2 separate regions of the Homo sapiens genome follow, and region 2 is linked to region 1. The links come from fine-mapping of genetic effects on gene expression. A gene starts in region 1. The other region holds a variant in brackets. All regions are shown on one strand. Distances are between the middles of the regions. Region 1 holds the start of USP7 (ubiquitin specific peptidase 7). Region 2 overlaps USP7 (ubiquitin specific peptidase 7).

Region 1 (5,499 bases):
CAGGGGTGAAAGCATTCATTCGGCAAATCGGCAAATCTTCACTGAGCATCCACTGTAAGCTTGGTGCTGTACTGAGGATAGAGCTGTAGACAAGACAATTTCTTCCTCAAGGTGCTTCTAGAAAGAGAGAGAGATATTGTGTGTTTTTTGTTTTTTGTTTTTTGTTTTTTTTTGACACAGAGTCTCGTTCTATAGCCCAGGCTGGAGTGCAGTGGTGCAATCTCGGTTCACTGCAACCTCCACCTCCCAGGTTCAAGCGATTCTCATGCTTCAGCCTCCTGAGTAGCTGGGATTACAGGCGCGCTACCATGCCCGGCTAATTTTTGTATTTCTAGTAGAGACGTGGTTTCACCATGTTGGTCATGCTAGTCTCGAACTCCTGACCTCATGATCCGCCCGCCTCAGCCTCCCAAAGTGCTGGGATTACAGGCGTGAATCACCGTGCCCGGCCAGATTGGTTTTGAACTCAGTGATGAGGATAAGGTTGGCCAATGTGAACTGACAGCCATATACATAACTTTCTGCCACCTCTTCCTCTGCCAGAAAGGCACTTTCTTCCCTCCTCCAAGCTTCCAGAATACTAGAGAGAAGGACTCTTTTGCATCTGAGCGCTGTTGATTAGCATTTGTGAGAATCTGTGTGAATAACAATACCTCTTCTTCAGATTCTGGGGGTGACCCAAGGGATTCCTTTGAAGTGACTGGGCTCTCCCCTGCTCACCTCTGTGGTCTGGCAGGAAATATACTGGTGAAAAACCTTCAAGCGTACGAAATGCTGGTGAGGGGGATCCAGTCACGCTTGAATCATATGTTCATTCAACCAGTTGACTAATGATTGATTAATTGATTGGCTGATTGAGATCGGGTTTCCCTATGTTGCCCAGGCTGGTCTCCAACTCCTGGGCTCAAGTGATTGATCCTCCCGCCTCAATCTCCCAAAGTGCTGGCATAAGGGGTGTAAGCCACTGTGCCTGGCCCATTCAACCAATATTTATTTATGTATTTATTTATTTTAGATGGAATCTCCCTCTATTGCCCAGGCTGGAGTGCAGGGGTGTGATTAGCTGACTGCAGCCTCCACCTCCTGGCTTCAAGCAATTCTCCTGCCTCAGCCTCCTGAGTAGCTAGGATTACCAGCGTATGCCACCATGCCCGGCTAAGTTTTTTGTATGTATTTTTAGTAGACATGAGGTTTCACCATGTTGGCCAGGCTAGTCTCGAATTCCTGACCTCAGGTGATCCGCCCACCTCGGCCTCCCAACGTGCTGAGATTACAGGCGTGAGCCACCGTGCCTGGCCCAACCAATTTTTTTTTTTTTTTTGAGATAGAGTTTCGCTCGTTGCCTAGGCTAGAGTGCAATGGCGCGATGTCAGCTCACCGCACCGCACCCTCCACCTCCCGGGTTCAAGTGATTCTCCTGCCTCGGCCTCCTGAGTAGCTGGGATTACAGGCATGCGCCACCACGCCCGGCTAATTTTGTACTTTAAGTAGAGACGGGGTTTCTCCATGTTGGTCAGGCTGGTCTCAAACTCCCGACCTCAAGTGATCCGCCCGCCTTGGCCTCCCAAAGTGCTGGGATTACAGGTGTGAGCCACCGCGCCGACCTGGCCCAACCAATTTTTATTGAGCACTTGCTGTGTATCCCAGGCATTTGTGATACAACAGTGAGCAAAACATTCTTTCGGGGGGAAGGGAGATGAACAGTACATAAATGGGAGAAAAATGCAGGGAAAGCGGGTATAGGGAGATGGAGAGAAGACAGGTACCACAATCTTCTGGCCTTGTTAGGGTGAAATTCTATTCTCCCCTGAGATGTGTAGAAATGTATATCGGTTTGCTCCATTTTTATTGACCCACACTGCCTTGATTAACTGGAAAAGTTGAGACCCTAATCATCAGTCTGTCAATGACTGAATGAGACAGGACAGGAGATATATTCACCAAATGTCTCCTGGAATAGGGAGGCCCCGGGTGAATGATCCCAGACTGGGTTGATAGGAAGGAAGTAAATTAATACCAAATGTGAAGGGTAGTGGGCTTGTTTTATTTTTATATTATTATTTTATTATCACTATTAGTTGAGACAGGGTCTCATTCTGTTGCCCAGGCTGGAGTGCAGTGGCGCCATCTTTGATCACTGCAGCCTCAGTCAACCTCCCAAGCGAACCTCCAGCCTCAGCCTCCCAAGTAGCTGTCACTACAGGCAGGAGGCACAACACCCGGCTAATTAAAAATACATTTCAAAAATATAAAAACAAAACCCAAAACCTTTGTAGAGAGGGTGGTCTCTTACTCTTGGCCTCAAGTGATTCTCCCACCTCGGCCTCCCAAAGTGCTGGGATCACAGGTGTGAGCAGCTGCGCCCCGCCTGGGGTTGCTCTTGAGGAGCCAAACTTTGCCAGATTAGGCTGACAGTGAGAAAATAAATTCTTCCACGGTAGATACTGGGTGAAAAAGTGCACGTCAGCGGGCAAGGGTAAGTAACGACAATAACAGGAACTTCTAGGCGCTGACCCCAAGCTCCCTTCCGGGCCCTATCCCGAGCAGTCCCCGGGCAACCTCCAGCGCTCGCCCCGGCGCGCTAGGCTGGGACCTGAACCCCGGCTGCCGGGTGGCTTCTGGGCCCCTCCTCATTGCCGCTCCTGGGTCTTTCGGGGTGTCCGGCTCCCCAGGATGGGAAGGATTCCGGTTCACCTCCGCAGGGCTAAGTCACCGGGCGGCCCGCCTCGGCCCCCAGGGCCCGGGGGCAGGGAGCGCCGAGGGTCCGCCGCGGGGCTGCGGCGCAGGCGGTGCCGGGGCGCGGCGCTGCGGGGCAGGCGGGCCTCGGCGGCGGCGGCAGGCGGGTCGCTCCCTGCTCCGCCTCCCGTGCTCCGCCCTGCGCTCCCGCTCCGCCCTCCGGCTCGGCGCCCGCCCGCTTGCTCTCCTCGCTCGCTCGCTCGCTCCGCGGCCCCCCATGCGGATGTGACATTTCACGCCGCCGCCATTTTGAGAGCGAGCCGAGCCGAGCTGCCGGGCGCCGCGTCCGCTGCCGGAGCCCCGACGACGACGCCGAGGAGGCGGAGGCCGCGGCTCTCGGAACGCGGCCGGCCCGTCGCCCGCCCGCTCCGCCGCTCCCGCCGGCCCCAGGGCCCGCAGGCCCGCCGCGGCCGGCCAGGCCTCCCGTCCGCCGCGCCCGGCCCGAGGCGGGGCTGACTCCGCGGCCCCCGACCGGCCGCCCTCCGCCCCCGGCCGGCCCGCGGCCCCGCAGCCCCGGCCCCGGCCCCGGCGGCGGGAGGCGGGCCCCGCGGCGGCGGCGGCGGCGGCCGCAGCGAGCGACGAGGCCGCCCGGCCCGGCCCGCCGGCCGCCCGCCCGCCTCGGCGCCGAGATTGGGCGAATCGCGAGCAAGTACGTGCGCGTCTCCCTGCCGCCGCCGCCGCCCGCCGCGGGCCGCCCCGGGGCCGCCGTCGCCGACGACGCGCGGGAGGAGGAGGAGGAGGCCGCCCCGCCGCCGCCGCCGCCGCCGCCGCCCCGGCTCGCCGCCGCCCGCCCGCCGGGCTCGCAGCCCCGGCCCCCGGCCGCAGGCGAGGCCCAGGCCGCGGCCGACATGAACCACCAGCAGCAGCAGCAGCAGCAGAAAGCGGGCGAGCAGCAGTTGAGCGAGCCCGAGGACATGGAGATGGAAGGTGAGGCCCGAGGGCCGGCCGCGGCGGGGCCGGGGGGCGCCTTTCATTGTGGCCGGGGGAGCCGCGGGAGCCACGCGAGGGGCTCGCCATCTTTAACCAGGCCCCGGGCGGCCGCCGGGCCTCGGCCTGGCCTCCCGGCCCCGGCCTGCGAGGCTGCAAAGTCATGCCGGGTCCGCGGGCGAGGGGCGGCCGCCGGGACCCCGGCCCCGTGCATTGTCCCGACCTCGCGTCCGCCGGGCCTCCGCGGCACAAAGCGCCCTGAGTTGTAAATTCGAGCGCTCAGGCAGCGGAGGGACGGAGGTGTTTTCTCACCCAGGTTGGGAGGCGGACTCCGGGGACCGTCCCCGTTCTGGGGCGTCCGGTTGGATCTGGTGTGGCTGGGGAATTCCTGACCTCCCCGGGCGCGGGGCTCGCCCGCACCTGCTCCGGTGCGCTCCCCCGGAGGGCGCGCCGTGGCTCGGAAGCGCTCTTCCAAATCACTTTCTAACAGCACTGCCTAGCGTCGGGCTTACGTTCGAAAATACCTGCAAGGAACGCAGATGTTGTCAGGTTTTGGACTGGCCCAGAGTTCTGACCCGGGCGCTGTTGGTTTCCGAATCCACCTGTTTTTCGGGGAGTTTGTACTTGGCAGTGTGTGGTGCAGCCAGCATCCGGCCAGGTGTGCGCTTGCAACCGTGCGAAAGCCCTGCCGCACATGGCTGCCTGCATCAGAATCAAACCTGACTCGAAAGGTAACTCGGTTTTCTGCCGATGTGGCAGTAATTTTCCAAGGCACTGTAGTTTGAGGTATAGAGTCTTGGTTGTAAAGGTTGGATGTGAAGACGCTGTAAAGAGAAGGGTGTTGGATTTAGGGAGTTGGTCGTTGGAAGGCACTTTTTCTCACGACCCATTTCACTGAAACAAAGCAAAGTCCAAATGGTCTTTAAAAAGTTTTCTTACCTACGTGACGAGTTCAGGCTGTCGGGAGTCAAATGGAGGCCACCTGAATGAAAACGGCGTGGAATGCTTTAGTTTTGCTTTTAGCAAGGGATCTTGGGTTGCCTCAATGAATGAAGCTCCAGGGGAGCTCAGGAAAAGCAGTATTTGTCCTGTGCGGTGGCTCCAAGTGTGGGGCGCTGCACACCGGTTGGTGGGAACACTTAAGCGTGACTGGTGTTCACCTCTGAATAGAATAACTTACTTCCAGTAATTGGATAGTCACTGAAAAAATGGCTGGCCAGGTTGCAAATGACAAAGTGGCTGGGATTCTGCAGTAGGCACTCCCCAGTGGTATTTATCAATGGCAGTAATGGGGGACAGAAGAGCGGAGTCCACGCCAAGGACTGGGTTATCTGTTTCACTTGGCCCCAGCAAAGCAGCAACTAAGAGCGCCTGTTATGTGTGATTAAACCAAATAGCTGAAAAGAAGTACTTTACTGAGGGAATTTTGTGTATTCCTTTTGTGCTGTATTTTGCAGCCCATCTAAAACATAAAAGAGGGTTGCTTTTCAGTTTCCTTTTCAAATGGTACCCGGTCAAGACAAATATCCAATAACACGAGCATATGGATTTCCCATGACATTGTCCTACCGCTTTCCAGGTGTTTTTGGACACTAGTGAGAATTAATAAACAGACATTACTGCAGAGCATGTGTGTTACAGACCTGTATCTTTGGGAAAATGACCAGGTCCACAAATTTCAAGGTATTTGCCCCCCCCCCCCTTTTTTTTTTTTGAGACGGATTTTTGCTCTTGTTGCCCAGGCTGGAGTGCAGTGGCGCGATCTCGGGTCACTACAACCTCCGTCTCCCGGGTTCAAGCGATTTTCCTGCCTCAGCCTCCCAAGTAGCTGGGATT
Region 2 (5,000 bases), 22 kb after region 1:
TAAAAATCTCCTTTCTACCTCTGACCTCATCCCCAGTCCCCAAACTGGCTTGTCTTTTCAAATAATTTTTAGGGAAAAACAGACATTTAAGAGAGGAAGCTGCTACTTAGTTGCCAAGGTGTAAATGGACCTTCCAGGCCACAAATAGCCCAGGCAATTCCTTTGTTCCAGGACTCTGGCCTCCTCCTGACTCCAGGCGGGCAGCTGTTGCACCCCCTCTCTCAGCTGCCAAGGGGGTGTCAAGCCTCAGCCAGTATTTTGGCTGTGCTTTTTTTTTTTTGCACCTCTGTTGCTCTGCGTATTTTTGCTTTTGTTTTAAGAGTAATGCATATTCCCGGAAACATTCAAACATGCAAGCAAAAAGGCAAGAAGGAGAGTTTCTGTTCCTCAGAGGGAACTACCATTATATACTTGATGTATTATGGATATTGTCCCAGTTCATCCTTTTTTGTTTGTTTTTAATTTCAGAGACGGGGGTCTCCCTATGTTTGCCCAGGCTGGTCTTGAACTCCTGTATACTGCCTCCCCCGCACCTTATAGTTTTGCTTTAAAACCCAATTATTGTAGAATAAGCAATACAATAAATTTAATAGAGAAATGAAATTTTAAAAACCAAAATGTTTTCCTGTGAAAAATTAAACTTATGTTTAAAGTTGTGCATCAGTGCACGAAGCACTGTTTGTGTTTATCCCCCAGCGTGAATGCTCATTTTCTTGGGGAATGGGTTTTTGTGGTAACATTTCAAAATGAGTGAAAGGACATTCAACATTTTGATTTTAATACATATTGCCTTTGGGAAGGACAGTTGACTCTAGAAAAGTGTGTTCCCGCCAGCCATTCGACTCTACCCATATGCTAGACCTTCAGTACTGGTGGGCATCTCCATTGCTTTTCACCGTTAATCCAGCAGAGGAAGAGTGGTATCCCACGTTAACGAGGGAGGTGGAGCCTGTTGGTTAGTCGTTTGTGTTTCTCATGGCATTGGGGCCCTGCATTCTCGGTGTTGATCCTTTGGCTCTTGTGTGTCACAGATCTCCATCCAGGTAGGGGCATCCCTTGCCCTAACTGCATCTGTGCAGCTCGGTTCCGGCCGTGCGTGCTGCAACTTCTACTTGCATTGTGCTGCACAGTTGAGCAGATAATCCTGTTTCTTTTGCGGAGCAGACTATACATGTAGAAGCAGTACAGGCGTAATTATAAGCTCTTTACTTGTGCTGTATATTAAACCCCTCTCAGTGCACAACACAGCATTAAAACCAATCATCAGTGTTTGGACAGGCACTTTTGGTAGTTAGGATGATCTCTAGGGAACAGATGATTTTTACATAATGAAGCTAAACTGAAAGCTCCAAACAAATAGTTTTATTTAAGGATCACATATTATATGTGGCCTTCTTTGGGGCTTGGTTTTCATATAGCTAATTTACATCAGGATTATTTCAGCATATAGAGCAAAGCGTCAAAGTGGGTCCACTTTGAACACTCAGGCTCCACTGCCTTAAAGCCAGGTGGTCGGCTGACCTCAGGGCCCGCAGTGCCTGAAAAGGTACAGAACTGAAGGCAACCTAGCTTAGTAGGACAGGACTGTCCCCTGGAAATGGCTTTCCAGCCAGCCTAATGAGGGTGCATATGGCCAAATAACTGGAGGGTATAAAATCACAAAGTGGCTGGATGTGGTGGCTCATGTCTGTAACCCCAACACTTTTGGAGGCCGAGCTGGGAGATTGCTTGAGGCCAGGAGTTCAAGACCAGCCTGGACAACATAGTGAGACCCAGTCTCTACAAAAAAATACAGAAACTAGCTGAGTGTGGTGGTGTGCGCCTGTAGTCCCAGCTGCTCAAGAGCTTGAGGTGGGAGGATTGCTTGAGCCTGGGAGGTCATGGCTGCAGTGAGCCATGGTGGCACCACTGCACTCC[A/G]GCCTGCCCAACAGAGCGAGACCCTGTCTCAAAAATAAATAAGCCGTAAGCCAAATATTGTTAATAAGACCAGAGGGATTCAGAGTTACTTAGGAGGGCCCCCGTTTTAGAGTACACAGGGATCTACTTTGACAGGCTGGGGTGAGGTGCAGGTGGTCAGACCCTCACAGTGCTGCAGAACAGCAAAGGAGCTTGTCAGGAGACCCCTAGCATGTGATAAGGGTGGGACAGACCCCACTGCTTGATATTTGGCAAGGGCTGGTACCAGGATTCCCATGCTGGGGCTGTCTCAGGTCCGACAGACTCTCCACTGGGCATCCCAGTCACTCCGAGTGTCCCAGTACCTCCCAAGGACATGGATGGCTTCCTGTTCATTGGGTGGAGCACCTGCTGGGAGGGAACATTTTAGAGTGAAGTTAAGAATGCTTATCGTGGCCTTCAAGGCCCTCCATAGCTTTGGCCCTGCCCACCTTCCCCTTCCCACTGCCCTGTTCCTGTTCCTGTTGCGGTTTGCTCTACCTGGACTGCACTTTTCCATCTCTGGCCGGCAGGCTTCTTGCACTCTGTGCTTGCCACAGAATTTGCCACTCTGTGCTTGCCAGTTGTCTCCTCCTTCATGACTAAGGGACATGAACCAGCCCTGTGGCTGTCACTGTGTGCGTTTGCCCTCTATTGCAATGATCACCAAGGGACTTGCCTCCCACTTCCTAGTGAGCACCAGGAGACCAGGAGGCGTGTCCACCCAGTTCCCTGCCGAACCCTGGGCCCAGCCCATCTGTCAGAGACGGAGGCTTGGAAGGGTCAGTGGCTGGCCGGTGGTCTCACACCTGGGGAGAGGCAGGCCTGACTTCACAGCACGCACCACCCAACACAGCTGATCCTGGCTCTGCCCGTCCCCTCACTCCTCACCACACCAACACGGCCTGGTCTTTGTCTTTCCTGGTACCAAGCAAGGCTACAAGGTACTAGAAGGAAGATACTAAGCGAATTGGCAGACTAACTTATTTACACTCTGATGTTGCTATCGTGCGTGGACAAAAAAGCCGAAATGTGTTTTGGCTTAGGACAAGTTACTGGACATGTCGGTTGACCTGCGAGAAGAGGGTGGGCTCTGCTGAAATGCGGCTGGAGATACGTGCCTTTACCCCTCAGGTCCTTCCTGTCTGGAAAAGTAACGTATTAGGCTACAGAATAAGATGTTTTCTTTGTTAAAAAGTTGTTAACCGCAGACTGCAGGATATGTAGGGTATGTCCACCCTTTAGGGGATGCATGAAATCCTAGCTAATGGTAGCAGCTTAGAAAGGTGCTTTCAGGGTTATGTTTGAGCATAGTTAATTTTTCCACTTAGGTTCATGTTCTGGAATTGGCTCCTTCCAAGAGGTTTCAGGTATCCAGTCAGGCACAGAGGGCGTGAGGGCTGGGAAGTAATTTGGTGGTGGGGCGGGGGGTCCTCATGGGCATGGGGCATGGGCCCCATGTGAATTGGGCAGCAGCTCCTTGGCAAACATGGGCAGTGTGGCCTGGCCAGCACCTACCACTTTCCAATCAGTGGCTGGAAGGTGAACCTTGAGTCCCTGAGTGCTGGACGAGAAGAAGGGTCCTGGAGTGGGAGGAGAGAGAATTCTGTCCTGCTATTCCTGACTTTATTGTATCCTATTATGACCTTCACCCCCACTTGATTACCTCCAGGTTCTGGAGACTGTATATATTCCAGGTTCTGGACACTGTATATAAGTGATTCTCCTGCCTCAGCCTCCCAAGTAGCTTGGATTACAGGTGTGCGCCACCATGTCCGGCTAATATTCCAGGGCCCTACCTGAAGCCAGCTTGAGCTTCACCTAGGAGAGGCCTCGCAGAGGGGATTGATCTCACTCCACAGCCTCTGATCTTTCCCACTCCCTGGAAATGTCTAGAAGATGGCGGTCAGGAGCTTCTTAGGGAGTGTGGTAACTCCGTCTTTTTTGGCTGCCACCATCGTCCCTGTTTCTGTGGATGCCTCGGGAGCTTACAGGCTCCCACCTCTCCCTTTCTGATGCAGGGGCCATTGCTGTAACTGCCCCACCTCCCGCCCTGGGTTGCCTGGTCCCAAGGTAACCCCTGCCCTCCCACTCTGATCAACAGCCTTGATGGTGGCGCCCAGCTTCTTGGACATTCCTAGTACACCTTCTGCCTCTCGTTGTGTTCAAGAAGCCGAAGAGTTCTCCTGAGCACTGTGCTGGAGGCTGGTCCTGTGCTGGAGCTCACCAGAGCATTTGGCGGTGTTCTGGTTCTTGGATAACAGTGTTGACATTTGCCATTGGACAAAGCATGGTTAGCTACTTGCAGAGGCCAGATGTGTATATGACCTGGCTGTAGGATGCCTAGACAGGTGACCTGGCTATAGGATGCGTAGATAGGCAGCAGGATGGGAGCCACAGGACAGAGCTGTTTGTGAGAGCATCATTTGGAGTCACAAAAATACAGGAAAAACCTGGATGGAAACAGCCTTTTTTTTTTGGAGACAGAGTCTTGCTGTGTCACCCATGCTGGAGTTCAGTGGCATGATCTCAGCTCACTACAACCTTCGCCTCCCTGGTTCAAGCAATTCTTGTGCCTCAGCCTCCCAAGTAGCTTGGATTACAGGCATGTGCCACCATGCTTGGCTAATTTTTGTATTTTTAGTAGAGTCGGGGTTTCACCGTGTTAGCCAGGATGGTTTCAATCTCCTGACCTCGTGATCTGCCCTCCTTGGCCTCCCAAAGTGCTGTGATTACAGGCGTGAGCCACTGCGCTCGGCCAGAAACAGTCTTCTTTAGGGGAGTGGTTGATAAATCATGACAATGTTTTGGAGTTATTAAACTTACCCACGTAATGTGAATAGTATATGTGTTTTCCTTCATGAGAAAAAGTGCACGAGCAATGTACATGATATGTACATATGAACATTACATTGAGAATGCCTGGAGGTGAAACATTCATGGTTTCCTTCATGTTAGCACTCAGGGAAGGCCAGTTGATTTCTCCTTATCTATGTCTGCATTGTTGCTAGCTAACATTTGCTTGCTTGTGTTTACTTCTTTCAGAACTCAAAAGTAGAAATAAA

What was found. PIP is the estimated chance that this variant, and not a neighbour inherited with it, causes the effect.
Region 2: its variant is the best candidate, but not a certain one, in a credible set for the expression of USP7 in whole blood (TOPMed, PIP 0.64).

Annotation. Positions count from the first base shown.
Region 1 is chr16:8,961,371-8,966,869 of GRCh38, reverse strand. It overlaps USP7 (ubiquitin specific peptidase 7), which reads left to right and starts at 2,964. Exons shown (of 31, transcript NM_003470.3): 1 at 2,964-3,663. The coding sequence starts at 3,585. It overlaps USP7-AS1 (USP7 antisense RNA 1), which reads right to left and starts at 4,157. Exons shown (of 2, transcript NR_184341.1): 1 at 3,976-4,157; 2 at 1-117. RefSeq lists enhancers at 1-112, 113-736, 737-1,360, 4,057-4,593 and silencers at 524-818, 2,502-2,861.
Region 2 is chr16:8,939,513-8,944,512 of GRCh38, reverse strand. All of the region lies in intron 1 of USP7 (ubiquitin specific peptidase 7), which reads left to right. Among named protein-coding and RNA genes, the nearest start is that of USP7-AS1, 21 kb to the left of the region's middle. The variant A/G (reference allele first, on the strand shown) is at 1,918.